Linked DNA regions of Homo sapiens: region 1 is linked to region 2. A link means that fine-mapping ties the variant in region 2 to the expression of a gene that starts in the linked region. Tissue or cell type: whole blood. Region 2 holds a variant in brackets; the other region holds the start of a gene. Each region is shown on its reference strand, or each on the opposite one. Region 1 holds the start of CNN1 (calponin 1). Region 2 overlaps ZFPM2 (zinc finger protein, FOG family member 2).

Region 1 (15,931 bases), not on the chromosome of region 2:
GCTCATGCCTGTAATCCCAGCACTTTGGGAGGCCAGAAGTTCGAGACCAGCCTGGGCAACATAGCGAGACCCCCTTATCTACAAAAAATTTAAAAATTAACTGGGCATGATGGCGCATGCTCATAGTCCCAGCTATTCGGGAGGCTGAAACGGGAGGATCGCTTGAGCCCTGGAGGTCGAGGCTACAGCGAGCCATGATTGCACCCCTGCACTCCAGCCTGGGCAACAGAGTGAGACCCTGTTTCTAAAAATAGTAATAATAAATAAATAGGGCAGGGCGCGGTGGCTCACGCCTGTAATCCCAACACTTTGGGAGGCCGAGGCCTGCGGATCACCTGAGGTCAGGAGTTCGAGACCAGCCTGGCCAACATGATGAAACCCCGTCTCTACTAAAAATACAAAGTTAGCAGGGCATGGTGGTGGGTGCCTGTAATCCCAGCTTCTCGGGAGGTTGAGGCAGGAGAATCGCTTGAACCCGGGAGACGGAGGTTGCAGTGAGCCAGGATAACACCACTGCACTCCAGCCTCAGCAACAGAGCGAGACTCTGTCTCAAAAAATAAATAAATAAATAAAAATTAGTGGGGCGTGGTGGCGTGCTCCTGTGATCCCAGCTACTCGGGAGGCTGAGGCACGAGAATTGCTTGAACCCAGGAGGTGGAGGTTGCAGCGAGCCGATATAGCACCACTGCACTCCAGCCTGGGCGACAGAGTGAGACTCCGTCTCAGTAAATAAATAAATAGGAAGGCCTCAGTGAGGTGTCCTTTGAGTAAAGGCCGGAGGAAGTGAGTGAGCCATCTGGATATCTGGGGAACGCTTTTGGCACTGGGAACAACAGCAAAGACTCTGTGTGGTCGGAGTGGAGTCTTTGGAGGAAATGGGATAAAACGAGGTGAGATTGAGTAATGGGGGCTCCTGGTCTCCCCCAGAAAGCACCAGATTTAGGCTGTTAATAACTAAGGTGGATAAGCACATAAAATGGGCTATTGGCAATAACAGTGTCCCCCGGGAAGGAAGGCTATCTGCCCTCATAAGCCCATTTCTGCAGTCCCTCAGCCTCTGTGGCGCAGTGAGCTGGCATGGAGACTAGGATGCAAGAACCTACCCTTAGGATGCCTCAAGGACTCTGCGCAGCCGCAGGACATCCACCTCATCAGAACTCTTGTGATTGGGCAATCTGAGAAAACCTGTAGCCAATCAGCTGCTTGGCTGGAGCACTCCTCTCTGGCAAGTTGACAGGCACGTGGGCAGCGGCTGGGAGCGCTACTGCCCTCTGCCAGGCTCCCGCAGCTACAAGCAAGCAGAGTCAGCTCTGCTTAGCTGGGGAGTGGGTAAGATGATGGGGTCGCTGACCTGGCTGTGGCCTTCAGAGTTATTGGTGTCCTTCTCTTGAGGTGGTCATGGCTTTTGTTTTCTTATTTATCCTTCCAGAACTAGTCTTTTAATATTTTATTTTATTTTATTTTATTTTATTTTTGGAGACGGAGTCTGGCTCTGTCGCCCAGGTTGCAGTGCAGTGGTGCAATCTCAGCTAATTGCAACCTCCGCTTCCCACATTCAAGCAATTCTCCTGCCTCAGCCTCCCGAGTAGCTGGGACTACAGGCGCATGCCACCATACCCGGCTAATTTTTGTATTTTTAGTAGAGATGGAGTTTCACCATGTTGCCTAGGCTGGTCTCCAACTCCTGGGCTCAAGCAGTCCTCCCGCTTCAGCCTCCCAAAGTGTCAGAATTACAGGCATTAGCCACCGTGCCCAGTCATTATTATTATTTATTTATTTATTTATTTTTTGAGACAGAGTCTTGCTCTGTCGCCCAGGCTGGAGTGCAGTGGCACGATCTCGGCTCACTGCAAACTCCGCCTCCTGGGCTCACGCCATTCTCCTGCCTCAGCCTCCCCAGTTGCTGGGACTGCAGGCGCCCGCCACCATGCCCAGCTAATTTTTTTGTATTTTTAGTAGAGACGGGGTTTCACTGTGTTCTCCAGGATGGTCTGATCTCCTGACCCCGTGATCTGCCAGCCTCGGCCTCCCAAAATGCTGGGATTACAGGCATGAGCCACCATGCCCGGCCTATTATTATTATTTTAAAATAGAGATGGGATCTTAATATGTTACCAAGGCTTGTCTCAAACTCCTGGGGTACTGCGATCCACCCATCTTGGCCTCCTAAAGTGCTGGGATTATAGGCATGTGCCACCACACCAGGCCAGTAGTCTTTTAAAAACAAGTAGGTACAGGCCGTGCGCGGTGGCTCACGCCTGTAATCCCACCACTTTGGGAAGCCGAGGCGGGTGGATCACGAGGTCAGGAGATCAAGACCATCCAGCCTAACAAGGTGAAATCCAGTCTCTACTAAAAAAAATACAAAAAATTAGCCAGGCGTGGTGGTGGGCGCCTGTAGTCCCAGCTACTCGGGAGGCTGAGGCAGGAGAATGGTGTGAACCCGGGAGGCGGAGCTTGCAGTGAGCCGAGACTGCACCACTGCACTCCAGCCTGGGCGACAGAGCAAGACTCCATCTCAAAAAAACAAACAGACAAACAACAACAAAAAAACCAAGAATGTACATATTTTATGTACTGTATGTATTAACACAGAACACCATATGTGAGGCCCTGGTGCAGAATCTTTAACATTACAGTCCCAGAAAGAACCCTATAAAAAGTAGTAGCTTCACAGTGAAAGATCCTAGCAGACACCACCTTAACCAAGGGACCAACATTTATATCACCAGCAATGAGTCATGGTGATATCATGAAGCCCTTGGTATGACACACTTAGAAGGATACATCATCACCTCTCTGGTATTCTTCCTGGTAATGCAAACACCTCAGTTTATTCAAGACAAACCAAACTCGAAGACAGTCTACAAAATAACTGACCAGCACTCTTCAAAAGTGTCAAGGTCCTGAAAGACCCAGGGACTATTATAGACTGTAGGAATGTATGGAGATATGACAATTAAATGCAATGAGGGCCAGGCACAGTGGCACTGTAGTTCTAGCTATTTAGGAGGCTGAGGCAGGAGGATCACTTGAACCCAGGAGTTCAAGTCCAGCCTGGGCATCATAGTGAGACCTCATCTCTAAGATAGATAGATAGATAGATAGATAGATAGATAGATAGACAGACAGACAGACAGACAGACAGACAGACAGAAAGAAAGAAACGCAATGGGCCGGATGCGGTGGCTCACACCTGTAATCCCAGCACTTTGGGAGGCCGAGGCAGACAGATCACAAGGTCAGGAGTTCAAGACCAGCCTGACCAACATGGTGAAACCCCCTGCCTCAGCCTCCCATGTAGCTGGGATTATAGGCTCCCACCATTACGCCCAGCTAATTTTTGTAGTTTTTGTAGAGATGGGGTTTTACCATGTTGGCCAGGGTGGTCTTGAACTCCTGACCTCAGGTGATTCACCCGCCTCAGCCTCCCAAAGTGTTGGGATTACAGGCGTGAGTCACTGCACCCAGCTGGAGTCCCCACTCTTAACCACAGCGCTACAGTGTCTTCATTTAGTTGAAACAACATGCTATATGTTTTAACTTCAACTTTGTCTATCTCCCTTGTCCCAGGTTGATGGGATTTATAGTGATTTATTATGACAAGGCCACTGCAATAAATGTTCCTGTACATATGTCATTCTTCACACCTACACTTGTACTTCTGAGGAATATTCTAAAATAGAGGATATACTTGTTCAGAAGGTAAGGACATTTGTCATTTGGGAAACTATCAACAAATTGCCCACACTCATCAACAATGTTCCCACAGCCTCCTCTGCGTTACATGTTGTCAAGCATTCTTTTATTTATTTATTTATTTATTTATTTATTTATTTATTTTTTTGAGACAGAGTCTCGCTCTGTCGCCCAGGCTGGAATGCAGTGGCACGATCTCAGCTCACTGCAAGCTCTGCCCCACAGCTTGACGCCATTCTCCTGCCTCAGCCTCCCAAGTAGCTGGGACTACAGGCGCCCGCCACCACGCCCGGCTAATTTTTTGTATTTTTAGTAGAGACAGGGTTTCACCATGTTGGCCAGGATGGTCTCGATCTCCTGACCTCGTGATCCGCCTGCCTTGGCCTCCCAAAGTGCTGGGATTACAGGCGTGAGCCACCACACCCGGCCGTCAAGCATTCTTTTCTTTTCTTATTTATTTATTTTTCACCCAAACTAAAATGCAATGGCATGGCTGGACACAGTGGCTCATGCCTGTAATCCCAGCACTTTGGGAGGCCAAGGCAAGCAGATTACCTGAGGTCAGTAGTTCGAGACCAGTCTGGCCAACATGGTGAAACCCCATCTCTACTAAAAATACAAAAATTAGCCCGGTATGGTGGTGGGCACCTGTAATCCCAGCTACTCAGGAGGCTGAGGCAGGATAATTGCTTGAACCTGGGAGGTGGAAGTTGCAGTGAGCTGAGATCATGCCACTGTACTCCGGCCTGGGTGACAGAGTGAGATTCTGTAAAAAAAAAAAAAAAAAAAAAAATAAGCAGTGTCATGATCATAGCTCACTGTAGCCTCCAACTCCTGGGCTCAAGCAATCCTCCTGCCTTGCCCTCCCAAAATGCACTTTTTTAAAAAGCTCTCTCTCTTTTTTTTTTTTTTGTAGAGGCAGGGCCCTGCCATGTCTCCCAGGCTGGTCTTGAACTGCTGGCCTCAAACAATCTGCCCATCTTGGCCTCCCAAAGTGCTGGAATTACAGACACGAGCCACTGCACCCAGACTATAAGTGAACAGCTCCCTCCCTGTCCACCCACTCACAGTCAGTCTGGGGGTGAGAGATGCTATTATTTTACAGCAGGTGGTCAGGGAAGGCCTCTCTGAGAGGTGATATTAGAGCAGAGACTGAATGAAGTTGGGGAGAGGCCATGCAGGCATCTTGCAGAAATGTGTTCCAGGTGGCAGGAACTGCTATTGTAAAGACCCTGAGGTGGGAACATGTTTGGGGACTCAAGAAACACATCTGTAGCCCAGCGTGGTAGCGGGTGCCTGTAATCCCAGCTACTTGGGAGGCTGAGGCTCCAGAATTGCTTGAAACCAGGAGGTGGAGGTTGCAGTGAACCGAGATCATGCCACTCCAACCTGAGCGACAGAGCGATACTCTGACTCAAAAAAAAAAAAAAAAGGAGAAGAAGAAGAAGAAATAAGGAGAAGGGAGAAGAGAGAAGGGAGAAGGGGAAGAAGGAGAAGGAGGAGGAGAAGGAAGAAAGAAGAAAGAAGAAGAAGGAGGAGGAGGAGAAGCAGCAGCAGAAGAAGAGGAAGAAGAAGGAGAACAAGAAGAAAAAGAGGAAGAGGAAGAAGAAGAGGAAGAAGAAGGAGAAGGAGAAGGAGCAGCAGCAGCAGCGGAAGAGGAAGAGGAAGAAAAGAAAGAAGAAAGAAGAAAGAAGGAGAAGGAGAAGGAGAAGAAAGAAGAAAGAAGAAAGAAGAAGAAGAAGAAGAGGGAGAAGAAGAAGAAGAAACAGCACATCTGGAGGGACTTGGAAGAAAAGGTACAAACAGTGTTACCTGGGAGGGTGGCTTGGCTTCTCTGAACCTTGAGTTTCCCATCTATAAAATGGACCTATGAGTTTCTACCCTCAGAAGGTGATGGTGAGGATTAAAAGAGATTGTGGCTGGCATGGAGTGAGTGTTCCCATAACAGAAGCCTTTAGGAACAAGAGCCTCTGCCAGATTTCTGGATAGGAAAGCTTCGTGAGGAGGGAGCTTGCAGAGCAGGATGCCAAGATAGGCCGGTGCAGAGCAGGGCTTTGACTTTCCCCAAAACACACAGACAAACACGTGTGAGTGTGGGTTTTATTTTTATTTTTACATTTTTTGAGTCAGAGTCTCACTCCCGTGGCCCAGGCTGGAGTGCAGTGGTGTGATCTTGGCTCACTGCAACCTCTGCCTGACATGCCGGGTTCAAGCAATTCTCCTGCCTCAGCCTCCCGAGTAGCTGGGATTACAGGCATGTACCACCATGCCCGGCTAATTTTGTATTTTTAGTAGACACGGGGTTTCACCATGTTGGTCAGGCTGGTCTTGAACTACTGACCTCAGGTGATCCACCCGCCTTGGCCTCTCAAAGTGCTGGGATTACAGGCGTGAGAAACCACGCCCGGCCAAGTGTGAGTTTTAAATGGTTCTGAGCATCAGGAAGGTTTTAGGGGGTCCCCTGAAGTTGAGGAGAGGCATGGCTTTCCTACAATGACTGTCCTAGACCCTTCGGGAAACCGTGCCTCTTACAAGATCCTACACTTCTCATTTAGATGGTAAACTGAGGCACAGAGGGGCTAGAGCCTGGAAAATGCCAGAAAGGAGCGAATAAGGGATGACACTCGGGTGTCTACTGGGATTGGGGCCTCGATATGGGATCAGCCCCCTCTAATGCCTCTACCCCCATCTACCAGACAGAGACGCGAAGAGAGACGGACAATACAGCGACAGCGACATGAAGAGAAACAGAATGACTCAAAGACCAGGCACAGAAACAGAGACACAGAGACAAAGGCAGAGACAGAAAAAGGCTCAGCGACCCAGAGACGGAGATACAGAGACACAGACCTACTACAATCAGAGGGACAAGGCAGTCCCCGAAAGGGCTGCCCCCTGGGGGTACCCGGGGCTGCCCCGTTGGGGGGCACGCCAAGAGCTCCCCCACCCCGCCCCCGTCGTGCCTGGGCCGTGACTTCAGAGTCCGTGCAGATTCTATAAATGGCCAAGAGGCCGCGGGCCGGGGGGCGGGGCCGAGTGAGTCATCGCGTGACGTCACCGCCGCCTGGACCTCGCCAGGTCCCGCCCCCGCCCCTCCCGGGCCGCCAGGGGGCGCCGGCTGCAGGTCCTCACATGCGCAGTAGCGAACTGCGGCCCCCGAGGGCCGCTCAGTTTGGGAGGGATCCAGGAATCTGCGCGTTCGAATCCCGCCCCTGCCACCCTCGAGCTGTGTGACCCGGCCATTCGGCGTCACCTCTCTGTGCCTCGTATAGACCCACCTCATAAGGCTGTCGTGAGGAATGAGTTAACAGGCTCAAAGCTCTTAGTACGTAGCAGGTGCTAATTGTTAGCTCATTTTATGTACTTTCTATTTTTTCTTTTTTTTTTTTTTAAATAGAGACGGGGTCTCGCTATGTTGCCTAAGCTGGTCTCGGGTCTCGAACTCCAGGGCTCAAGCGATCCTCCCGCCTTGGCCTCGTATTTTATGTATTTTCGTGTATGTTCAACATATCATGACATGCCATCAACTAGCACATTGCCTTAGCTCAGTGGTTGGCAAACAGGGGTGATCTGCTTCCACCCCGACCCCAATCATGGGACATTGGCAATGTGTGTAGACATTTCTTCTTTTAATTTTTCTTTTTTAGAGACCATGGTCTTGCTATCTTGGCCAGATGGTTCTCAAACTCCTGGGCTCAAGGGATCCTCCCACCTCAGCCTCCTTAGTAGCTGGGACTACAGGGTCCTGCCGCAGTGCCTCAACATTTCTGTTTATTAGGACTAAGAGAGTGCTACTGGCATGTAGCAGGTAGAGGCCAGGCATGCTGCTTGAAGTCTTACAATGAATGCCCAAGGCAGCCCCCCAACCATGAAGAATTATCCAGCCTCAGCTGTCAACAGTGTGGAGGTTGAGAAACCCCACCTTAGCCTCATAGTTGAGGTTCATGGAGCATGGTCTCAAATTCTCCTCTGCCCCTGGCCTGCTGTGTGACGCTGAAAAAGTGATTCCAAGCCCCCGTGCCTCAGTTTCCCCACCTGTAAAGCAAAGTACTTGTATTAATAATAACAGTGTCAGCTGGGCACGGTGGCTCACGCCTGTAATCCCAGCACTTTGCAAGGCCGAGGTGGGCAGATCAACTGAGGTCAGGAGTTCGAGACCAGCCTGGCTAACATGGCAAAACCCCGTCTCTACTAAAAATACAAAAAATAGCCAGTCGTGGTGGCAGACACCTGTCATCCCAGCTACTTGGGAGGCTGAGGCAGGAGAATCGCTTGAACCCAGGAGGTGGAGGTTGCAGTGAGCCGAGATAGCATCACTGCACTCCAGCCTGGGGAATAGAGACTCTGTCTCCAAATAATAATAATAATAATAATAATAATAATAATAACAGTGTCCATCTCTGAGGGCGTCATGAGAATTGAATGGATATATGTACAGAGTTGGAACATGGCCTGACATAAGGGCTGTAGTCTGTGGCATATTGCAGCCATGCCATTAGCATGTGACCGATAAACTGCATATCCTCAACATATCATTAGTGTGTGGCAGGTTGCAGACATGTCATCCAAGTGTCACAAACATGGCCTTGCCATGTGGGGCATGATGTGGGCATAGCATCCACCCCTGTGGTCCAGGGGTGAGATCTGGCTGGGTAGGGCTGTTTGACAGGGACACAGTTCACGGCCTGGGACTTGCCAACAAAGTCACCCTGTAGTTCAGGTGACACACAAGTGGATGGGGAGGGTGAGACCCAGGATCTCTTCTCCCCCAGGTCCTTATGAGGGGCTGGAGGAGACAGAACTGGGGTGCTGGACCCTCAGCATAAAGAATGCTATAGGCTGGGCATGGTGACTCATGCCTGTAAATCCCAGCGTTTTGGGAGGCCAAGGCGGGCAGATTGCTTGAGCCCAGAAATTTGAGACCAGCCTGGGCAACATAGCGAGACCCCGGGCAACATAGCGAGACCCCATCTCTAAAAAAATAAAATAAAATTAGCCAGGTTGGTGGCACAAGTCTGCAATTCTAACTACTTGGATGGGCTGAGATGGGAGGATCACTTGAGCCTGGGAGGTCAAGGCTGCAGTGAGCTGTGATTGTGCCACTGCACTCCAGCCGAGGGGACAGAGTGAAACCTTGCCTTAAAAAGACTGCTATGGCCCGAGTCCCTCTGCTGTGCCGGGCACTGTGCTGGGCATGTAACAGGCATATTCTTCTGATCTTTACAACTCTCCCATGAGGCAGGCACTATCGTTAGCCCATTTTACAGATGTGGCCATAGAGGCCCAGAGAGGAGAAGGGGCTTACCTAAGGCTATAGACTGTTGGTATCTGGAGATAAACCCGGGATGGTGCTCACTAAACTACCTTGGGTGTCAGTCCTGCTTCAAGACTCCAGAGAGATAAAGAGAGATGACCTCAGAGACAAAGAGACTCAGACCCAGCCAGAGGCCCAATGGACAGTGGGAGGGGTGGGTGGAAGAAGGCTGGTCTCTGTCTGACCAAGCCCCCCCAGAATAACGCAGGCTGCCCCCCTAGGTGGAAACAATGACACAATCAGCTCCCAATACCAAGGGCCTGACATCACAAGGGGAGGGGAAGGCAGCTGAGGTTGTGGGGGGAGGTGCCCCGCCCCTTGGCAGGCCCCTACAGCCAATGGAACGGCCCTGGAAGAGACCCGGGTCGCCTCCGGAGCTTCAAAAACATGTGAGGAGGGAAGAGTGTGCAGACGGAACTTCAGCCGCTGCCTCTGTTCTCAGCGTCAGTGCCGCCACTGCCCCCGCCAGAGCCCACCGGCCAGCATGTCCTCTGCTCACTTCAACCGAGGCCCTGCCTACGGGCTGTCAGCCGAGGTTAAGAACAAGGTAGGGCTGGAGGGCCTCCCTGGCCTGGCCCACACGTCCTGCCAGGCCAGAGCCCTGAGCTTGGGGTCCCTTGAACCCCCTCCTGCCTATCCTATGTGACTTGGAAACTGAGAGGGGAAAAGGGAGTGATATGGGATAGGGGCTGCCTGTCTCCCCCTGAACATCCCGGAGCCCCCAGCTATGGTTGGGGCTGGAATGGGGGGGCACACAGCCACACATAAACAGAGGGGGTCAGTCCATTGCAAAGATACCCACCTGATCAGTCTTCTGTTAACCCTTCGTGTTCTTGGGGGGAACAACATAGGGGGAAGACTTGTTGATTTTTCCATATCCCCCGGCCTGACAAAGAAATTGGGGAGCGCTTGAGTGCTGGGGTACCTGGGAAGTGACGCCGTGAAAGTGTGGGAGATCCTGAAGACAGAGGGGGACGGTGAAAGGCAGGAAGCGGGCATCAGAAGTGCGGCAGGGGTCTCCTGACTGTGGAGCTAGGAAGATACCTGGACACCACCTTCATGCTATGGTTGGGTAAACTGAGGTTCGGAGAGGAGAGGCAAATAGCTGGGGTCCCAGGTAAAGCAGGTACAGCGCTCGGACCCTGGACTCACCCCCCATACACCAGGATGGGCTCAGCTTCTCCCAGCTGGAGAACTTTAAGTTTCCAGCCCACTGGAATCGCCCCAACAGTATTGCCGAGGGAGGAGTTCCTGCCCCATTTGACAGAGGGGAACACTGAGGCTCAGGGTGGCTTTTCCCAGGGTCCCATGGTGAGGAAGTGGGGGACTGGGTTGGAACCTGGGTCGAGGGATCTCGGGGCTGGAGGAGGGGGCTGGTGGGGGGCGGGTCCTCGGGCGAGAGACAGATCCCAGCGCCGCCCTCCTCCCCCCCAGCGCCGGCCCCAGAGCCGCGCAGAGCCGCGCAGAGACGCCGCGCCTTATAAGGCGGCCTCGGGGAGCCCGGGCCACGCTATATAAGGGCCGGTTTGCTTTATAAAGCCGGGCTGGTGGCGTGGGGGGCGGCAGGGCCAGGGCCAGGTGAGGGGGCCGCCCCTCCCACCTCCCCCCACTCACCCGGGAGAAGAAGAGGCAGCCCGGTCCCCTAGGGGCTGGGAGCCTGGCTGGGCTTGGGCGGAGGGTTCTGGAGAAATGGGAGTGGAGTGGGGGAGGGGGGGGACAGTGGAGAGAGGGAAAAGCAGGGAGGTGGGGGGAGAGGCAGACAGAGATACTGGGAGCCTGAGACACCCTAGGGACAGACGGGGGAGGGCGAGCCAGGAGCGAGATAAGACCTAGACAAGGATGGAGGGGCAGGGAGAGGAGACAGAGCCCCACCACCCCCACCCCAGGCAGGAAACCTGGAGACAGAGAAAGACCTAGAGAGGCAGATATACAAGACCCAGGAGCCCTACCCCTGGCCAGACAGGGACTAGCCACCTAGAGAGATGGGGACCCAAGACTGGGCCAAGAAAAGACAGCGCTGGGGAAGAGAGAGACAGAGGAGTCGGGGGGATAAGAGGGAGAGAGACATACAGACGTGCAAGGGGTGGGGGCTAAGACAGAGACAAGCCCCCACCACTAACCAGAGACAGAGCCCTGGAGCTGAAGACCTGGGGGACACGGAGAGACAGAGATGTATGACCAGCACTCCTCTGCAAGCCAGCACCCAGGGACACCTCCTTAGACATCCTTCTTCCCTTCCTGAGGTGCCCTCTCTTCCAACAGGGGGCACAGAGGGGGCAGGGCTAGAGGAAGAGAAGCCCCAAGTTTGGCCTGGGCGAAAAACCAGGGTGCCGGGTGCCACCCCTCTAGCTCAGAGGATCCAGCTCCCCACACCCCACCCCTCATCTACATTCCCTGGTGCCAAACCTCAGAATGCCCGGAATGGCCCCCTGGGCAGGTGCCACCTCAGCCCTGGCTCTCAGCCCGCCCCAGCCCCCATCCCCCAACTATGGATCTGGGGCAAAATTGCCTTAGTTGGGAAGGACGAGGGAGATCAGGCTCTAGGAAGTTCAGACAGGACCCAGGGAGCCCAGGCTGCCCCCAATGCATCCTCACCCCTTTCTCTGTGCCCCCTGCCCTCCCCTCGCCCCAGCTGGCCCAGAAGTATGACCACCAGCGGGAGCAGGAGCTGAGAGAGTGGATCGAGGGGGTGACAGGCCGTCGCATCGGCAACAACTTCATGGACGGCCTCAAAGATGGCATCATTCTTTGCGAGTGAGTGAGGCTCTCGAAGCCGAGACCCTGCAACATCCCCCAACTCCATGCAGCCCCTCAACCCCCAAAACAACCATGATCCTGGAACTGAGTTGAACACTTTCTATTGGATACCTTTGGGGTGGCCAGTAATCATTGTGCCCATTTAACAGGCACAGAAAACTGAGGCTCAGGTGAAATGCATTGCACCAAGTCCCACGTGGTTTCAAGGGAAATGACTCTAGAATCTTAACCACCATGCTATATAGGGTAGGCCCATCTGTGGCCGCCAGAGTCCCCAGAAAGAGCGGTCACAGCTAAAAGGCAGCAGCCAACAGCTGTTCATGGCTGGCTTGGTGATGTGAGGAGAGATGTGCAGCAATAATTAAAGGAGGCCCTGGTTTTCTTTCTGTTTTCTTTTTGTTTTTTTGAGATACAGTCTTGTTCTGTTGCCCAGGCTGCAGTGCAGAGACACAATCTCGGCTCACTGCAACCTCCGCCTCCAGGGTTTAAGTGATTCTCCTGCCTCAGCCTCCCCAATAGCTGGGATTACAGGCACGCACCACCATGCCTGGCTAATTTTTGTATTTTTTTAAAGTAGAGATGGGGTTTCACCATGTTGGCCAGGATGGTTACGAACTCCTGACCTCAATTGATCCACCTACCTCAGCCTCCCAAAGTGCTGGGATTACAGGCACGTGCCACCATGCCCGGTTAATTTTTGTTTTTTTTTTTTTTTTTTCAGTAGAGATGGAGTTTCACCATGTTGACTAGGCTGGTCTTGAACTCCTGACTTCAAGTGATCCACCTGCCTTGGCCTCCCAAAGTGCTGGGATTGCAGGCACATGCCACCACGCCTGGCTAATTTTTGTATTTTTTTTTTTTTTTTTTAGTAGAGACAGTGTTTCACCATGTTGACCGGGCTGGTCTCAAACTCCTGACCTCAAGTGATCCACCTGCCTCGGCCTCCCAAATTGCTGGGATTACAGGCATGAGCCACCTCGCCCGACCTTCTTCTTCTTCTTCTTTTTTTTGAGATGGAGTCTTCCTCTGTCACCCGGGCTGGAGTGCAGTGACATGATCTCAGCTCACTGCAACCTCTGCTTTCCGGGTTCAAGTGATTCTTGTGTCTCAGCCTCCTGAGCAGCTGGGATTACAGGTGCCCACCACCTTGCCCGGATAACTTTTGTATTTTTAGTAGAGACGGGATTTTGCCATGTTGGCCTGGCTGGTCTCGAACTCCTGACCTCAAGTGATCCACCCGCCTTAGTCTCACAAAGTGCTGGCATTACAGGCATGAACCACTGCACCCTGCCGGCCCTGGTTTTCTCCTCGCCTCAAAACCTCATTGCTGAGGGAGGTGAAAACCCTAACAGCTCCCAAGCCCCAGTTCCACTGCAATCTTTTTTTTTTTTTTCAGATGGAATCTTGCTTTGTGACCCAGGCTGGAGTGCAGTGGCATGATCTTGGCTCACTGCAAGCTCTGCCTCCCAGGTTCAAGCAATTCTCCTGCCTCAGCCTCCTGAGTAGCTGGGATTACAGGTGCCCGCCACCACGCCCAGCTAATTTTTGTATTTTTAGTAGAGACGGGGTTTCACCATGTTGGTCAGGCTGGTCTCGAACCCCTGACCTTGTGATCCACCCACCTCGGCCTCCCAAAGTGCTGGGATTATAGGCGTGAGCCACCGCGCCCGGCTCCACTGCAATCTTAATGCATAGCAGGGCCCTAAACCCAGCCTGCGCCCGATCTGCATTTGAGTCTGACCCAGGGCAGAGTGACTGTGAGTGGCCTCGGGAAGACTTTGAAGGTGCAGCTTCATCAAGTCCTAGATGCTGGGAAGAAGGGGTGTGGGGGGTGTTTACCTTGTTCCATTCCCATCCACTAGGAACAAGGAATTGGCAGGTGGGGAGGTAGGCATGCTGGTGTCCCAGCTCAGGCAGAGGACTGCTCAGACGTCAAACAGTGCAGTCCCAGCCTGGGCAACATAGCCAGATTCCATCTCTACAAAACATTTTTGTTTTAATTAGCTTGGCATGGTGGCATGCGCCTGTGGTCCCAGCTACTCGGAAGGCTGAGGTGGGAGGATCGCTTGAGCCCTGGAGGTCAAGGCTGCAGTGAGCTATGATCGCGCCACTGCACTCCAGCCTGGGCAACAGTGAAACCCTGTCTCAAAAAAAAAAAAACTAATGTAAACGACAAGTTGATGGGTGCAGCAAACCAACATGGCACATGTATACCTATGTATCAAACCTGCACGTTGTGCATGTGTACCCTAGAACTTAAAGTATAATAATAATAATAATAATAATAATAAAAGAGTGGGCCGGGCGCGGTGACTCACGTCTGTAATCCCAGCACTTTGGGAGGCTGAGGCAGGCGGATCACGAGGTCAGGAGATCAAGACCATCCTGGCTAACACGGTGAAACCCTGTCTCTACTAAAAAAAATACAAAAAATTAGCCGGGCGTGGTGGCAGGCGCTTGTAGTCCCAGCTACTCGGGAGGCTGAGGCAGGAGAATAGCGTGAACCCGGGAGGCGGAGCTTGCAGTGAGCCGAGATCCCACCACTGCACTCCAGCTTGGGTGACAGAGCGAGACTCCGTCTCAAAAAAAAAAAAAAAAAAAAAGACCTAATGTAAATGACGAGTTGATGGGTGCAGCAAACCAAAATGGCACATGTATACCTATGTATCAAACCTGCACATAGTGCACATGTACCCCAGAAGTTAAAGTATAAGAAAAAAAAAAAGAGTGTAGTGCAGTCACCCACGCACTCCGGTCATTCACTCATTCATTCATTCATTCATTCACAAAAGAAGCATTTATGAGTTCCTGCTGTGTGCCAGGCTCTGGCCTAGGCACTGGGAACAGTGAACAGAACAGACTCGACTCAGAGCTCAAGGACTTTTAGTCCAGTTGAGGAGATCAATCATATAATTGATCAAATAATCACAGATTTGTGGTCGTAAGTGTCCTGGGGAAAACTCAAGCGGAAGGGAAGATGGGAGGGTCAGGTATATGTCTGCGGGTGGAGAGTCTGCAGTTTCCTAGAGAGTGGTCTGGGAGGCCTCTCTGAAGAGGTGACATTTGAACAGAACCTTAGATGAAGTGAGGGAGGGCTCAGGGGACCTGAGGCAAAGCAGAGGGGGCCACCAGTGCAAAGGCGTGAGGTAGGATCGTGCTTGGGGTGTTCAAGAAACAAGAAGGAGGCTGGCGTGACGAGCACCAAATGATTGAGCAGAAGTGGAGATGAAGTCGCAGAGTGAACTGAGAGTCAGATGGTGGAGGGCATTTTATTTCATTTATTTATTTAGAGACAGAGTCTTGCTCTGGTGCCCGGGCTGGAGTACAGCGGTGCAATCATAGCTCACTACAGCCTCGACTTCCTAGGCTCAACTGATCCTCCCACCCCAGCCTCTTCAGCCCCAGCCTCCTCAGTAGCTGGAACTACAGGCACACATCACCACGCCCGGTGAAGTTTTCGGGTTTTTTTTTTTTTTTTTTTTGTAGAGACACGGGTCTCACCATGTTGCCCAGGCTGATCTGAAACTCCTAGGCTCAAGCCATCCTCCTGTCTCGGCTTCCCAAAGCACTGGGATTACAGGTGTGAGCCACTGTGCCCAGTTCTACAGAGGGCATTTTAGGCAGAGGACTTAGGATTTCATTCTGAAGGCAATGGGAGGCTCCTGGAGGATTTGGAACTGGACGGTAACTTGAACTGTTTAAAAAAGGCCATTCTGGGCCAGGGGCAGTGGCTCATGCCTGTAATCCCAGCACTTTGGGAGGCTGAGGTGGGCATATCACTTGAGGTCAGGAGTTCGAAACCAACCTGACCAACATGGTGAAACCGCGTCTCTACTAAAAATACACAAAATTTAGCTGGGCATGGTAGCAGGCACCTGTAATCCCAACTACTTAGGAGGCTGAGGCAGGAGAATTGCTTGAACCCAGGAGACAGAGGTTGCAGTGAGCCGAGATCCCGCCACTGCCTTCCAGCCTGAGTGACAGAGCAAGACTCCATCTCGGAAAAAAAAAAAAAAATTCTGGCTGCTGGATGAAGAAGGGTGGGTCTGTAGGGGATGAAGTGGAAGTTGGGAGCTCATTACAAGAGGCCAGGAAACAGACTCTGGTGGCTGAGACCCAGGTGGAGGTGGCGGGGAGCAGTGGGTGGTTTTCTGGACTCA
Region 2 (15,931 bases):
GTGTAAAGCAAACACACAAAAAGAGGTGGCTGCTGATAAAGTACAAGTAAGTATTCTAAACACTTCTGTTCCTTTGTCTGCAGGAGAGCTGGAGGTGTTTCAGAAAGATGGGGAACGAAAAATTCAGAGTCGACAGCAACTTCCAGTGGGAACAACCTGGGGGCCGTTTCCTGGGAAGATGGACTTGAATAATAATTCTTTGGTATGTGGATATTCCGAGATGGTTAATATTTTGTCATCGACTGTTAGTATTTTGCCATAGCTCAGAAATTCTCTCTGCTTGCTTTCCAATGAAATCACTAAAAATAACCATTTGTTTTTGCTTTTTCGTGGACAGCAAAACTTGGATACTTTTCAAGTGGTTTGTGTCTGACAGTAATATACGCAGAATTTAGACAGAAACAGGTTACTCATACTAAATTGTGGCTAGTAAGGTAATATGTAAGGTTATTGCTTTATCTGCTTAGCCAGACCAAGACTGTTCACATTTAGTAATATATAAAATTGCCTTTATTTTTCAGATGACACAAATTGTCATCCATTACAGGTTTTCATGAAGAACAAGAAATAAACAACTTTGTTTTTCCTTGGTAATACTGTTTGTACCTTTAAAAGCAGGGATGAGTGGTCAGCATTATAATTTTTGTTATTCAGCTTTTTTGTAAAAGTTCTGAGAACAGAAAGTCTATCTCTTGCCATGATTATGTGGATTATTGATTAATTAGATGTTTTAAAAGTAATGGAGGCTGGGCACAGTGGCTCACTCTTGTAATCCCAGCACTTTGGGAGGCTGAGGCAGGTGGATCACTTGAGGTCAGGAGTTCGAGACCAGCTTGGCCAAACATGGCGAAACCCATCTTTACTAAAAATACAAAAAAAAATTAGCCAGACATGGTGGCGGGTGCCTGTAGTCCCAGCTACTCGGGAGGCTGAGGCAGGAGAATTGCTTGAACCCAGAAGGCAGAGTCTGCAGTGATCCAAGATCGTGCCATTGCATTCCAGCCTGGGTGACAGAGCAAGACTCCATCTCAAAATAATAAATAAATAAATAAATAAATAAATAAATAAATAAATAAATGGAAAGGTAGGTAGTTTGGTTACATTTAAACTTTATTTCTTAATTGGATATATAAGTTTGCTATTCCTGCCTCAGCAACTCACCACAAACTTTGTGCCTTAAAACAACATAAACTTATTATCTTGCAGTTATGGAAGTCAGAAATCCAAATTGGGTGTCACTGGGCTAAAATCAAGGTGTCTGCAGGTCTGAACTCCTTTTCGGATGCTTTATAGGAGAATCTGTTTTCTTCCTTTTCCAGTTTCTGAGGGCTGCCCGTGGCCCTTCCCTCATAGACCCCCTTCCATCTTCAAAGCCACCAGGGCCTGATGGTGTCTTTCGCACGTCCACATTCCATCTCTGACTCTTCTGCTTCCCTCTTACACATTTAAGGATGCTTATGATTACACTGTGTCTGCCTGGGTCGTCTAAGCTAATTTCTCTATTTTAAGGTCAGCTGATTAACACTCTCAATTCCATTTGCTTCCTTCATTTCTCTTTGCCATGCAAAGGAATGTTCGCAAGTTCTAGAGGTCAGGATGTAAACATCTTTGCAAGGAGCTATTCTGCCTACCACATGGGATAAAAGAAAAACAATAGCTGAAAACCTCTCTTATAATAAGTGATAACACAGGTGATGAAATTTGGGAAGAAAAATGTTTCATATTCCTTAGAGGATCCAGAAATTTTATAAGTATTTATTCCCCTGAAAGTCCTTCTCTCTAAATGCCATTTATGTAGGAACAGTCTTGTGACTTTTAAATGACCCTATCTATGCTAAAGGGACATAAGAACTCCCAGAGGGGTTTCGACAGGTGTACTGGGTTCAGCAACATTACATTCCTTTTTTGATTTATTACATGAAGGAAATCCCTTCTTCAAGTTATTACATGAAAGAAATTGATACATGTGGATCTCCGTTTATTCAGTACCATGTGGATGTGACAGAGGTTGTTGGTTCAACTAAAAGTAATGATTAGAATAAATAGGAAATATTTGTGTTACCAAACTTTTAAAGAGTGCATGAGATCCCAGGGGTATATTTATTACTTTGTACATTCATGTATTTATCCATAAAAGGATGAAGTAGGGGTTTTCACATACATTTAAGGACCAAACAAGTTGACCTTACAGTCCAGACCAAATATTTAATATTCTGGGCAATTTGTTCTAGGTGGACCAGTGCAGCTACTTCAAAAGAGATTTGTGATGTAGCCACAAAATGCAGGCCTCAGTTGATTGAGTTGTATTAACAGATTGTTTTATTGATTCCTTTCAGAGAGCAATATTAACTGTGCCCATTTCTCAAGCTAATGAATGTTAAGAAAGGCAAGAGAAGGATTGTCTAAACATCAAAGATTGAATTAAATGCTATTCTGAACTTATTTTATCTGGGAGTTTCTGTTTGTCTTCTAGCATTGCTTACTAAACATTTTAAACTATATCATATTTATCTTATTTATCACAGTGTATCAGATACCAATGCAACCTTTAATCATTTGTATATTTCTTCAAAAGTGTACTGACACTGTATCAGCTATAGTTGACATGCAAGATGAACATTTTCCAGTTTACTATATTAAAAGGATATATTTACTAAAATGCTATTTTTGATTAATCTTGCTATTACTCTCTGTATGTATACAGAATGGTAGTTTTATGACATTTTTACCATATGCTAAATCGTGATGGATAGAAGATAAACCTGTCTGAGAAAGTTTGATTTTTTTATTTTTCATTGAAATAATTTCTGATTTTAGACAGTTGATGTCATTTTGCTATTTTAATAGTTCTATATGACTGTAAAGCTATTTTATGCCATATTTAATATTTTTAAAAGGCGTTAACTTATATGAAATTTTCAGAATTTTTGATACTATTTAAAACATGACTACTCTTAAGTTTATCAACAATTGGGTAATGGGTGATTATTATTTATAGAAAACAATTTTAATACTTCAGTTTTCTTCTTTTGTCTTAGGCTTTAAATATCAGATTATTTTATTTAGTTAAAATACAGCATTTTTCCTTATTTTAAAATTTAGTTGCCTCACTAAAATATATTTTCAAATGTTTTTCTTTTGAAATAACATCCTCTTCCAAAATTTACTTCTGAGTTTATATCATTAAATACTACTAGTATTATTATTCCTACTACTGTTACTACTGTACATCAAATTGGTTAACATATATGTCTGAAAAATGGAAATAGATTAGCTCATTTAGTCCTCCAAAAAACCTGTGAATTTGGTTCTATCATAAATCATATTTTACAGATAAGAAAATAAAAATTCTCACTTCTGATTCGAGAGTCTGCTTTTTTAAAGACTCTGCCACACTGCATTCTCAGTATAACATCTGTAACATGATTTGAGCATGATAAAATTGTTGATGATTTCTTAACATGAATCATAAATTTATAAAAATCTCTGGGAGGAAGTATGCAAAAATTAGAAATATACCTTTTTTTCCCCGATGGGCAAAATATTTATTATGTAATTAGACTACTTGAGCAGTTAAAAGTTAATTCAAAGACTTCTGGAGTTTTGTTACCTCTCATAATTTGGACAGTACTATAATATGTATTTGAAATCATAAATATTCCTTATAATAAAATATATAGCCTACTACCCCTTCCCTACCCAACCTTGAATCAAATTTGGATTAGCGCACTCTCTTAAATTGCTTATTCGCCAACTGATGTAATGTTACTCTGCTCAAACTCATGGTGTTGGCTCGGGAGATTCAGCTCACTAATTAATCCAACACAGTAATTAATTGAGTCACCATGCCAGATGTCAAATCCTTTTTATATCTTTCAAGTCCCCATCTTCAAGTACATTAGCAATATGCCACCTTCTGCAGGAAGCCTTTGCAGACCAGGCATTTAGATGTATATAGAACATTTTAAAAAACACAGAAACACCAAACAAATTAGTTTGACAAAAAGTTGTTCTTGGAATTATATAACACACTGAACATAGAAATAGAGTATCTTTTGTCCACACCTTATTATCTTGGTAGATACTTCATGCTTTAAAAGTTTTATAATAGCAGCAGCAGCATAGTAAATACTTTCATTGGGCCAGATACTGGTCAAAGTGCTTTACATGTTTTATATCATATTTACTTCTTACACAAGTGCAAGAGAAGATAATATTTATCTCCTTTGTTGCAGAGGCGTAAACTGCTACTTTGGGAAGTTAAATAACTAGCCTAAGGTCAACTCAGTCTGATTCCATAACACATGCTCCAGTCTTAGAAATGTTTTCTGTGATGTGGTAATAATAATACTGCCTAGCTTATAGGAATTTTGGACTAAATGAGATAGCATATGTGAGTTATCCACACATTTCAACTACTTTTACTAGTCAGTAATCTGTGGAAGTGAACCCATTGAAATCTTTCAACTTTAAAGCAAAAAGCACTCTTTAAATTAAACAAGTAACACTATAAACCTTGGCGTTAGGGGATTTTTACATGCCTAAATTTGACTGTTTGCCAAGGGCTCTGTCTTAGGATTCTCCAGAGAAACAGAACAACAGGATGTGTACGTATATAGCCAGAGATTTGTTATAAGGAATTGGCTTGTCCAGTTATGACGGCTGGGAAGTACAAAATCTGCAGTACTCAGTCAGATGAGATACCCGGGAGAGCCAGTGGTGCAGATGAAGTTCGATAGCGGTCTTTGGGATATTTCCTCGTCTGCAGGGAGGCCAGTCTTTTTGGTCTATTCGGGCTTTCAGTTGATTGGGTGAGGCCCATTCATATTTTGGAGGGCAGTCTGTTTTACCCAGAGTTCACTGATTTAAATGTTAATTTCATTCAGAAACGCCCTGTGAGTTGGCAATTAAAATGAACCATCACAGGCTCCGAAGGTCTGCACTACCTTGCAAGTTTCAGTTTTTTGAGGTATGACCTTATACCCCTGAAAAAATTGATACCAGTGAGGGAGCCCAGCTTTCTTTCCAGCATCTCACCTCATATCTCAGAAATAACTTATATTAAATACTATCATGGTAGCACAAACTTGGTGTTTTTGAAAGTTTTGCAGTTTTATTCACTGAAAAAAAATCAAAGGACTACTGATGAGGAAGAAATTTTAAAAATCACCTTAAGTTCTGATCAATATCTGGTTTGGATGTGTTTTAGAACATCTATGTTTATATGTTGTACCTTTGAAGATTTTCCCCATATTCTCCCAAGGACAAAGATCCTTGCAATAAACTAAATCTCAGCTGTGCTAGCACGTGGTAGTGCTTAGCAAGTATCAAGCAACAGTGATTACTTGGAAGGTTGGGTGTCTGAAATTTAAATGGCGTTTGCCCTCTCTTGCTTTTAAATATTATCAACTGTTGATAGCTAACTATTCTGATTGGATTCAGCCAACTGCTGGAATCATACAACATACATAGTTAATTAAATAGAAAGCCCCAGATTACTTACAACATAATAGTAAACTCATCGCAACCTGTTAAATTCAACAAATGAAATTTGACAGAGAAATCTCATTTTATTCTGTTCAATCAGAATAAAATGTATTATTTTCCCACAGGGTATTTGTGATACTGAATTTTTTTTAAAAAAATGAAATATACATATAAAGGGCACTATAGATATTTTGTTGACCTAATAATGAAATAATGCATGTATCAAATTGCATCTTAAAAGTTTTAAGATAGTCATCTTTATAGAAATGTGGTTAAGGAAAAAATTAGAAGTTCCTGATCTACCTGCTTATAATTAGAATTATTAATTGCCTCCATTTATCCCTTTGCAGTTTTATCTTTTCCAGTATTCATCTTTTATCTTAATAATTGCTAGTCTTCAAGCTTCATATTGTACATATCCTGTAGCAAATATATCTCTACCTATGTCTCCAGCATTCACCTCTATAGGCAAAGGCTGCTCAGTGGGCACACCTGTGACTTTTCTACCTGAGCACTTTTTTCCAGCGTTAAGAGCAAACTCCTTGCAAGCTGGGAAAGCTGGAAGTGCTGGAGATTTCCTATTCCCAAAGGTTATCCTCAACCAATGATGGACAGAAAGTTGGTGGACTAACACCTCCGCTTCCCTTCCTCTTGGTTAGGATATAAGATGTGTTCTATATTGTCTGTTAGAGTTTGGCAGTGGAATTGAGCTCTGATTGCCTTGATAGTGAACATTTTGTGGACCTCTTCCCTTTCCTGCTTACTTCGCCACAACCTTACTGGAATTTTCTGGGATCAACTTCCCAGTAAACTACTTGTATTTGAATCAGTCTCAGGGTAAGCCTCTGGGGAATCCATACTAAGACAGCCTCTAAGATGTAATAATGAAATAAATTTAAAAGCAATATCCAAATTATTATTGAGATTCTAGAGGACATAGAATTATTTAATCTTTATTATTCAATTTTGGACCTCTACTACTGGTACATAATCGGTATTCAATAACTGCTCTTTAAAATAAAAATCTAATCGAATTGAATTTGCTTATCAGGAACATTCTCACTGACTCCACCCATATTCTCCATCTTTCCCATCTCAATGGCATAATTTATAATTTTGCTGAGGCATGACTTTTTGTTGAGCCTCAGATTTCATTGATGTTGACATTGTGAATGATATCTTCCTTCTTAATATTCATTTTAATCTGGGCTCAGGACTACCATACTTTCCTATTTCTCATATCTCTCTGGGTCTTAGCTCTTTTTAATTTAACTGTGAGTGTTTCCCAAAACACTTCTGGCCTTTCTTCTCTTCTCCCTCTGTTCCCAGTGCCTCAGGGAGCTTATCCACTTGCAAAGCTTCAGCTACTAATTTACAAATGACATTTAAATAAAAAAATCTCTAACCTTGGCTTTTTACCCTTTCTCTAATAGCACATTTCAACTGTTTTGCAAGCTTTCCCATTTAATTCCTCCAACTACACAGTCACAAAGAGAGTTTATTCCTGTCTCCACAGACAGCCTCTCTTTTCCATGACTTCCAGCTTTCAGTCACCTTTAATCCTAGTCCTCTGCCTCTCCTTTCGTACCTCTGCAGGGAGTCCATTCTCTCAATTATCCTGTGTCTTTTCTGCATTTCTACCTCTCCTTCTCACATCTCAAATGCTATTCACACACAGTTACACATACCCATACCTCTCTCCTTTTGCCTGTAACTACTACCATCTCTTTTTCCTTCTATTCAGAGTCAAACATCTTCCAAGACTCTCCATTTCATGTCCAGAAACCAAGCATCATAACTCCTGCTTTCGTAATGATTGTTCTCCTCTTTCTGTCCTGCTACCACTGCTTTAGTCGAAAGCCCCACCGCTTCTCTCTTGATTATTACAATATTCTTCTGTTCTCTCTTGTCATCTTTTTATTTACTCAGACCACAGTATGTCCTGAAAGCAAAACTACAGTAGTCACTTAACTCCTGTGCTTTAAAATCATTCTAAAGGGCACGAGAATACCCCAAGGTTTTGGTAAAGCCTAAAAAAGGCCTTCCTGTTACTCACCTCCCCAGGTGATGCTCACCTCCCCAGTTCTGACCCCTTTTCCACTCTCTTATAGACTTTAGGCATTCTGAACTACATGCAGTGCCCTGAATGTCCATTTTTTTTCCACATCCGTACATTTGGTCATGCTGTTTTATCCTCCTGGAAACCCCTATTCCCCCCTCCCCACCTATCTCTCTTCATCTCACTAAGTCCAATACTTATTTAAAGACTCTGCTCAAAGTCACTTCCAAGGTAGACCTTCTCTGAAGCCTCCTGTCTGGAATAGATAACCACTCTTGGAGTATTTCCCTGGTGCTCTAGGTTTACTAGGATAAGAGCACTGATCACATAACTGTGAGCTCCTGTTTGCTTGTCTATCTCCCCTGCAGACCATATGCTTATTATCTATTTTTTATCTTTCTATCCTTCCCACTTAGAACAATGTCTAGCTTATACTAAGAGCTCAATGAATAACATTGAATGAATCAGCACATT[A/T]ATTTTTTCCTTTCACTTTTCTCCATATCAGGAACAGCTGCACACCCCTCCTTATTCAAGACCCTGCATCCTTCCTGAGGCTTTACATCCATGTCTGTTTCGTCTGTGATCTTGCTTCATCTGCCTAACTCAGCAGAGCAATTACCACAGGAAATGCTATCTTGTACCTGTTTTATTTGTTTATAGACTTGCACTTTTATTTTAGTCTCGTTTGAGAGGAAACTTCAGTAGGACAAGATAACTATGTCTATTTCTTCAGTTTTTATCTCATAAGGAGATATGCCCATGATGGTTTCTTGAGAAAAGTTGACTAATTTCGGTGTAAGATTTGCAACCCTTGGATGCAGCTAGGAGGATGAGGTGTTGCGCCTAGTGAGGCAATTATGATTTGTTTACAACAGACTCAGTTTTAGATCCCTCACTATGACATGGGTGAAGGCCAAGAAGGTGTTCTGCTCTACCATGCTTTCTGTGAAGTCTCATCCAGCCTCACACGTTCCAGTGACAAACCATCTGGGAAATTCCATCTGTCTCTGCTTGGAAACTGAGGTGGCAGTCGCCCACTGTGAGCAATTTTCTATTAACTTCTTGGATAAGATCAGTCAGATTTATACTGAATTGATGGGAACCGTAAGAGCAAGATTGTTCCAAGAGAAGACAAATGTACTGATTCCTCTAATTGGGCTTAAGCCAGTTTCATTCACAGACGCCCTTAGGTTCTAGTAGTGCAAGGACTTATAACCTTTTTAATTGTACCCTGTTCCTCTTGGGAAACATTGGTGAAATTCATTATTGATGGAGGTTGTAGATTTGTCCCTTAGGGAGGGCAAGATCCTGGCTTCTCTTATACTCTATCTGCTATGTGGAGAATTAATGGAAACTGAGTGGACAGAAAAGCTGCTCAAAGAAGACTTGAAGGCAAGAAATGTAATGCAGCAGAGCCTTGGAAAGTGATGCGTTGGTTTGGTTTCTAGAATTAGGGTAGGGTTTTTGTTGTTTTATTGATTTTTATTTTTATTTATTTTTTTTTTGATGGAGGGGGATTACTCAGGGAAAGAGGAGAAAGAAGTTTGTGTGGAGGCCTCAGTAATCAAAGGCCTGCTATTGAATGTGAGTCAGAAAGGAAGAAATTAAACACCGAAGAATTATTTCACAATTGAAATATGTAGAAGCCAGAGAGGTCAATTGCATATTAATCTGAAGGGATTTGCTGTGTTATAATGCAGATATAGTTATGATGTTGGCAGTGGATGAAAATACATTGTCATATGGCACAATGGTATTGAAATGAAAACCTGAATTTGTGCCCTTCCTGATAATTTTTACTTGCCTCCAAAATAATACCTTTTGTGTATAGCTAGCCTGTTAACCTCAATCTCATCCTGACTTACTTTTTCTCCTGATGGTGAAGTCTTTCCAGGTTCTTTACATTTGGACTTGGATTTGAAAGGTGGAAACACAATTCCTTGCTATACATAGACAATTTTATTTATGGACCTAACTTACTCTCCTCTGCCTGAAATTTTAATACATTTTGGCCTTTGGTTTATATGGCTAAACCTATTTACCCTTAGTTAGGCCAAGTTTGAACTTTTAAAAAGAATTATTTTTACAAGATTATTCATTGTTCCCTTTTCCCAGAACTCCAAGGAGAACTTTTGTTGAAGATGATCTTTTCAGTTATTAGGACGATTAGTGCTATTAATTTAATTAATTTCTGAAAGGAGGAATTGTTTATGTCATCATAAGATGATCAAAGCTGATCCACTCTATGTGTGTAAAGTTGAGACAAATGAGTCACATAACCTTTTCCCACAGAGGATCGGTGTGAAGGATGAAGAATCACTATTGATTTATAGCTCCAGATACTGTTTGTGGGAGTTGTGATTGTTCCCACACATAGGGATCCTTACATGAATTTTCTTAATGCAGATTTCATTGCTACTGTCATTTCTTCGTATTTGCCAAAAACAGAATCATGAAGGCCTAAGGTGGAAGTGGGTGGATATATAGCATCCCTGCCTCTCTAGGGAAATCTATCACCATCTTGACTAGTGAGGAAGTGGTTTGTAAAGCATAACTATTGTTTTTGTAACACAAATTCTAAAATATCAATCTTGAAATGTAGTTTTCCCTGGAGGGGAAGGTAGAAGTAACAAAGCACTGTGAGGAAGAGTTGTTCATGGAGTTGACCAAACTGTCCTCTGTTATGTGCTGATAGGTCTGGCATGCCTTTTAAATTCTTTCTATTTGATGTTTTTGAGGAATTGTCATTCTATACTGATTTCAAAACAATTAGTTTGGCAGGATATGCTTACATGGTTGTAACAAATATTGTGCCAGCATTATGAGGACTTAGCATCAATCTCAGCTTGACATGACAATTAATACATTCAGTAACTTGGAGATGATAACAGAGAGAATGGAGATAGGTACCAGTTTGTACTCCTTCAGTTTGGTCTTAAAAATCAAAATTACTTAGGGATAATGCTTTGTCAAACTCTGATAACATATTGGACTCTGGTTTTAATCTAATTTTCAATAAATATTCCCAGGATGGGATTCACCAAGTTTCATAATTTAACTGTAGCTCTCAGGTGGCATTGACAACCTTTATTATCATATAAGGTTTTCCTAGCATTGGCAAGTTTGTGACTCTTTCCAAGCCACTGCTATAAAGCTCTGTGTTGATGCTGTGTGGTGGTCCAGGGGCAAGTATTCTTGGGTAAATTTCTTTTTTTTTTTTTTTTTTTTTTGAGACGGAGTCTGGCTCTGTCGCCCAGGCTGGAGTGCAATGGTGCGATCTCATCTCACTGCAAGCTCCACCTCCCGGGTTCATGCCATTCTCCTGCCTCAGCTTCCTGAGTAGCTGGGACCACAGGTGCACGCCACCACACCTGGCTAATTTTTTGTATTTTTAGTAGAGATGGGGTTTCACCGTGTTAGCCAGGATGGTCTCGATCTCCTGACCTTGTGATCGCCTGCCTTGGCCTCCCAAAGTGCTGGGATTACAGGCGTGAGCCACCACACCTAGCCTCTTGCATAAATTTCTAATAAGAGAATAATAAAGTAATATTTATTACATACTTTGGAAATTTGAGAAATTATTTGAGAAACTCTCTTGGAGATTAACATATTTTTGCCTGTTAATTTAAATATTGAATTTAAAGTTGTTCTTTTTTTTTGAGACAGAGTTTTGCTGTTGTTCCCCAGGCTGGAGTGCAGTGGCGTGATCTCAGTTCACCACAACCTCCGCCTCCCAGGTTCAAGCAACTCTCCTGCCTCAGCCTCTCGAGTAGCTGGGATTACAGGCATGTATCACTATGCCTGGCTAATTTTATATTTTTAGTAGAGACAGGATTTCTCCATGTTGGTCAGGCTGGTCTCGAAGAACTCCCGACCTCAGGTGATCTGCGTGCCTTGGCCTCCCAAAATGCTGGGATTACAGGCATGAGCCACCGTGCCCAGCCTAAAGTTGTTCTTTATTATTCATTGACTCTTACTTCAATTTTCTCATAAAACCCCTTGTCCCAGCTTGACAAAACTGTGGCTTCTTGATTCTAATAATTTCAGCGTCTTCTGTGCCATTTTGTATCACTTTCTATTTTTTAATGGCAGGAAACCAGACTAAAGCATAGAGTTATGTAGGTTGGTCTGTGGTTTTCTTCTCATACACTTTAGTTCCTTTTCTGATGGTTAAAAATAATGAGCACAACTTGTCGCAGGCATAATGTCTCCCACAAGGCTTCAATCAAGGGGACAGACAGGTCTTGGTGTCATCTGAAGGCTCAGCTAGTGGAGGATCTGCTTACATGCTCACTCAAATGACTCTTGATTCAGTGCTTGGCCTAGTGGGCCTCTACTTAAGGCCACTCACAATATGGCAGCTGGCATCCCTCTGAGCAAGCAGATGAGAGCATAGGACAGGGAGCCCAAGACAAAAGCCACAGTGCTTTGGTAACTTAATCATGGGAGTGGCATCCTATCACTTTTGCTGAATTCTAGGGAAGGGAATTGTGCAGAGCTTGAAACCAGAAGGCTGGGATGACTGGGGGCCAACTCAGAGGCTGTCTGCCACAGAAGGTAATTTGCATAAGTAGTTAACCTGACCTGTGGATAGGGAAGGACTTTCAAATACCAAGAGCCATGGGAGCAATCACAAAAGAAAATTCAGTGAACTTGAATACAGACAACAAAACTGTATGCTATACAGCATCATAACCAAAATCAAAGATTAATAAGTAAAAGACATTTGTGAAAATGAGGTATATTTTATTATTATTCATTAAAATATTTATGGTTTCTCACATCTGTGATCAGTGGCTTCCTGATTAATTTATTTAGATATTAATTTTGCAATAAAGACAAATTAAAATATACAAAACGTGATTTGTACAAAAATTTGGTGGGAATTGGGGATCAAAAGTAGTTTGCTGAGTGTTTCTTCTCCTTTGGTAATTTTGAGAAATATACACCCACACACTGTAAAGATCAAAAGTGGGAGAGAAAGTATGGGAAAGAGCCCGTGATGGGGTCAGAACAGCCTGATTCTAGTCCTGTTATTACTCAAAGTGGATGTGCTATCTTGGGTAATCATACATGCTCTTAGTTTCCTCTTTTATAAAATAGGGGTTATTATACCAGCCCTACAACATAGAATTGTAAAGTTATATAAAATTATACGCATTTAGTCACTTTGAAAAACATACAGATTGTTAAACAAACCTGGATTCCTTTTATTATGCCTGTGAATAGAAAGTAAATGATTCATTCCTTTAATTCCCCAAGCAGTGCATCTAGTCTTTTCTCTTCTGTTCTCTCCCTAAACATACTTTAAAAAGCAGGTTTTGTTGTCATACGAATATAGCTTCATATACGTGTACTCACACGTATCCATACACACACATGCTTACTGATTAGCTGGCATGAATATTCTGAGAACTCATAGCCTAGATAAGTAAACGGTATGGACTTAGTGCATTTATCATCTAAGCAGACAGTCACCATAGAGGAAAAACACATATTTTTAGGAAGAGAAAGAAAGGTTAAGTGGTCAAACTGCCTTTTGAATGATCTTGGCTTCTTTGAGTTTTCTTTTTGTAGGGAGTTATTCTTCAGAAAGCATTTCTCAGGTGTGTGATTGGGGATTTCAGACAATTGGAAAAGTAATTTACCCTGTCTGATTCACTTTTGAGTTAGGTTTGTATTTTAAAATGTTAACTCAATTCTTTCATTATTTATGGCATTTTAGAGCTCCATACAGAATGGAGTGAATAAGGCAGTCATAATGCAGACAGTGATGTACTGTGAAATATGAAGAAATGGGGACAGAGTTTTGGAAGAGCAGAGGCACGTCACGTGCCTTAAGTTTTAGCTTTTATTAAGAAGTCAAACAAATACCATTTGTACCTCATTACCCTATGTGTAATAGTGTAAGCATTACCCCGCAGACAGGAGCAGTAAGAGTCCCTCAGGTTCTGATCCTAATCTCGGATGCGGCATTACCACCTCTCCTCTGAAAGCCACTGCTGCCCAGGCACACGCAGCATATTAGTGCATTTAAAGGTACCCAATTATATCCATGTGTGCATCTGAGATAGGCATCAGGACCCAAGTACATGTTAAATTCAGCTCCTATAGGAAAAAAAAAAATAGCACTTGCCTTTATTAAAGAAGTACAGAAGTGGTGGAAAGAAAATTTGTCCTTTATCTGAATATTTTCAGCAAGAAACCTAGGCAGTGTTATTCTTGGTGCATTTCTTCAAAACTTTGTGAAAATGACAACTCTTCAAAGGAGGCAGACATGTGCACAAGTGTCCCCCCGCCTCTGCTGATATTCCGGGAGGAGAAGGGGTGAGGGAGGAAGAGTGCGTGATGAAAGTCAAACAGTGGTCGGCTCCATTACTTCATTAATCAAGTGGAGGCATTCTGAAAAATGTTTCTCTTTGGTTGCAGCCATCTATTTTTTGGTGTTAATCTGCGCCCTGTGGCAGGGTTTTGTGAAAGGAAACAATGAGCCGTTGTATCACCCCCCTCCCTTTCCCCAATTGTTGTAGCCCCTGTCAGAAGGCTCCGAGGATGATGCAGGTCTGTATCAGCCTGATAAGGGAAAAGAGGATTCAAAATGGCTTTGGAGAGACTCCGTGGGAGTGGAGTGTGCTGTTTTGGACTAGATGAGCTAGGGAATATGGCAGAGGCCCTTAATGGGATCCTAAGGCTTCAGTGCCAAACCTTCTGCTGCTTCTTGAAGATTTTCTAATGAAATATTTTAATGGTAAAATTCTGTGACTGTCATAGGGGCATAGGTTCAAGATGCTGTTTTAAGTCATTTGCTCCATAATCTGTGATTAGTCAATCCAGGTCAAAAAGACAGAAAAAGAAAAAAAATATCCAAACTCAAGAAACCTGTCAGAGTATGTATTAGGTCACTTTTATTCTGTTGACAATGAGTGTTCAATTCACTGTCATCATGAGCTCTGTACAAGTGGCCTGTACATTTTATATACTGTGGGTTCCTATTTTATGGCTAGATGAAATATGAAGCTATCTTTCATAATGCTGATTCCATTTTGGCAGGCCTTTGGATCCACATATGGTTCAGTTAAGCTGTTTTGGAGCCTAATGTACCTTTGTTATTTATTGAGATTTTTGAAAGGGGAATAAGTGGGCTATTTTTACTCTGCATTTAAAAAATACACATTAAATGTTTCAAACATAATTCATACAGCTAAGAAAATTCTAGTGAGCTTTAGAAACGGATCTGCTATTCCTAGGACAGCTAAAATAAAATCATTCCTACCCATGAAGGAAAAAATAAAAAGACAGCTAAAGCTCCAGCAAAATAGAACCACTATCTTACAGCACACGGTAATAATATATACGCAGAGCAATTAGTAAACATGGTCAAGAAAAGTGGGCATCAAGTCAATACACTGTAAAGTTTAAGTATCTTTAAGCTTATAGATGATGCTGAGATTTTTTTTTTAACTATTCCTCCTACTATTGGCCTGGTGTCTTATGAATAAACATAGAGGCACAAAAAATTAAAAACAGTGGTTGTCAGATGAGTGAATGATAGGGAAATACCTCACATACCATGGATAGTCCAGTGCTTATCTAGAAAAACTTAGCTGCTTGGAGGTGATGTTTGCTCCCCACTGCTGAGACCTGATTGGTAGAGGGCAACTCCACCTTCAGATTTAACGTTCTTGTTTTGGTGAGTTTAACTCAGACTCTTAACTATTGGTTAAAATAATGTCTGTGTGAAAATACAAAGAAAGATAGAAGAAAAGTGACACATCCTGTCATATTGGAAGACAACTTTTTGTTTCTAAAAAAGCTTTGATAGGATAGATCTATTTGTATGTATTTGTATATTAATGCTCCTACTTTGTAAAGAGCTTTCAGATTTTTATATGGCCATTTATGTATTTTTATATGGTCATTTATTTTCACTTGAAGTTAATCATTAAGAAGGCTTTTTAGAATGGACCCAAGCAAAACAGTTGGCTATTGTCTGCATGAAAGAGTAGGGATGGTCCCTTTTGGACATGTCACCCTAACTAAATCTCCAGCCATATTGTGTGCCTTCCTATAATGGTTTATTTTGCTCAAGCTTCAGCTATCTTTTATTAGTTTCCTTTATAGTGGTATGTTATTTTTATCATCTTTACAGTCATATGAAAGGGTAGTGGAATAATCATTTCCCTTATTTCATAACTATTCTAACAGTTTTCCTCTGCTGAATCTAGTAGCAAGTAAATGACTATTAAAATGTATTTCTTTCTTTAATGTTTTGTACATACAGCCATAGAAGTCTTGAAGGAAAACTTGACTCAGTATTTATTTAGCATGTTCCATAAGTCAGGAACTCTTCTAAAATGTGGGATACAAAAATCTGAATGCTTCCCA

The links. PIP is the estimated chance that this variant, and not a neighbour inherited with it, causes the effect.
Region 1: CNN1 starts here. The variant in region 2 is the best candidate, but not a certain one, in a credible set for the expression of CNN1 in whole blood (TOPMed, PIP 0.61).

The regions. Positions count from the first base shown.
Region 1 is chr19:11,529,430-11,545,360 of GRCh38, forward strand. CNN1 (calponin 1) reads left to right here and starts at 9,422. Exons shown (of 7, transcript NM_001299.6): 1 at 9,422-9,561; 2 at 11,647-11,768. The coding sequence starts at 9,499. RefSeq lists silencers at 6,520-6,589, 6,600-6,969, 10,398-10,447 and enhancers at 8,393-9,338, 12,112-12,231.
Region 2 is chr8:105,561,280-105,577,210 of GRCh38, forward strand. ZFPM2 (zinc finger protein, FOG family member 2) reads left to right here. Exons shown (of 8, transcript NM_012082.4): 4 at 84-202. Among named protein-coding and RNA genes, the nearest start is that of ZFPM2, 250 kb to the left of the region's middle. The variant A/T (reference allele first, on the strand shown) is at 8,021.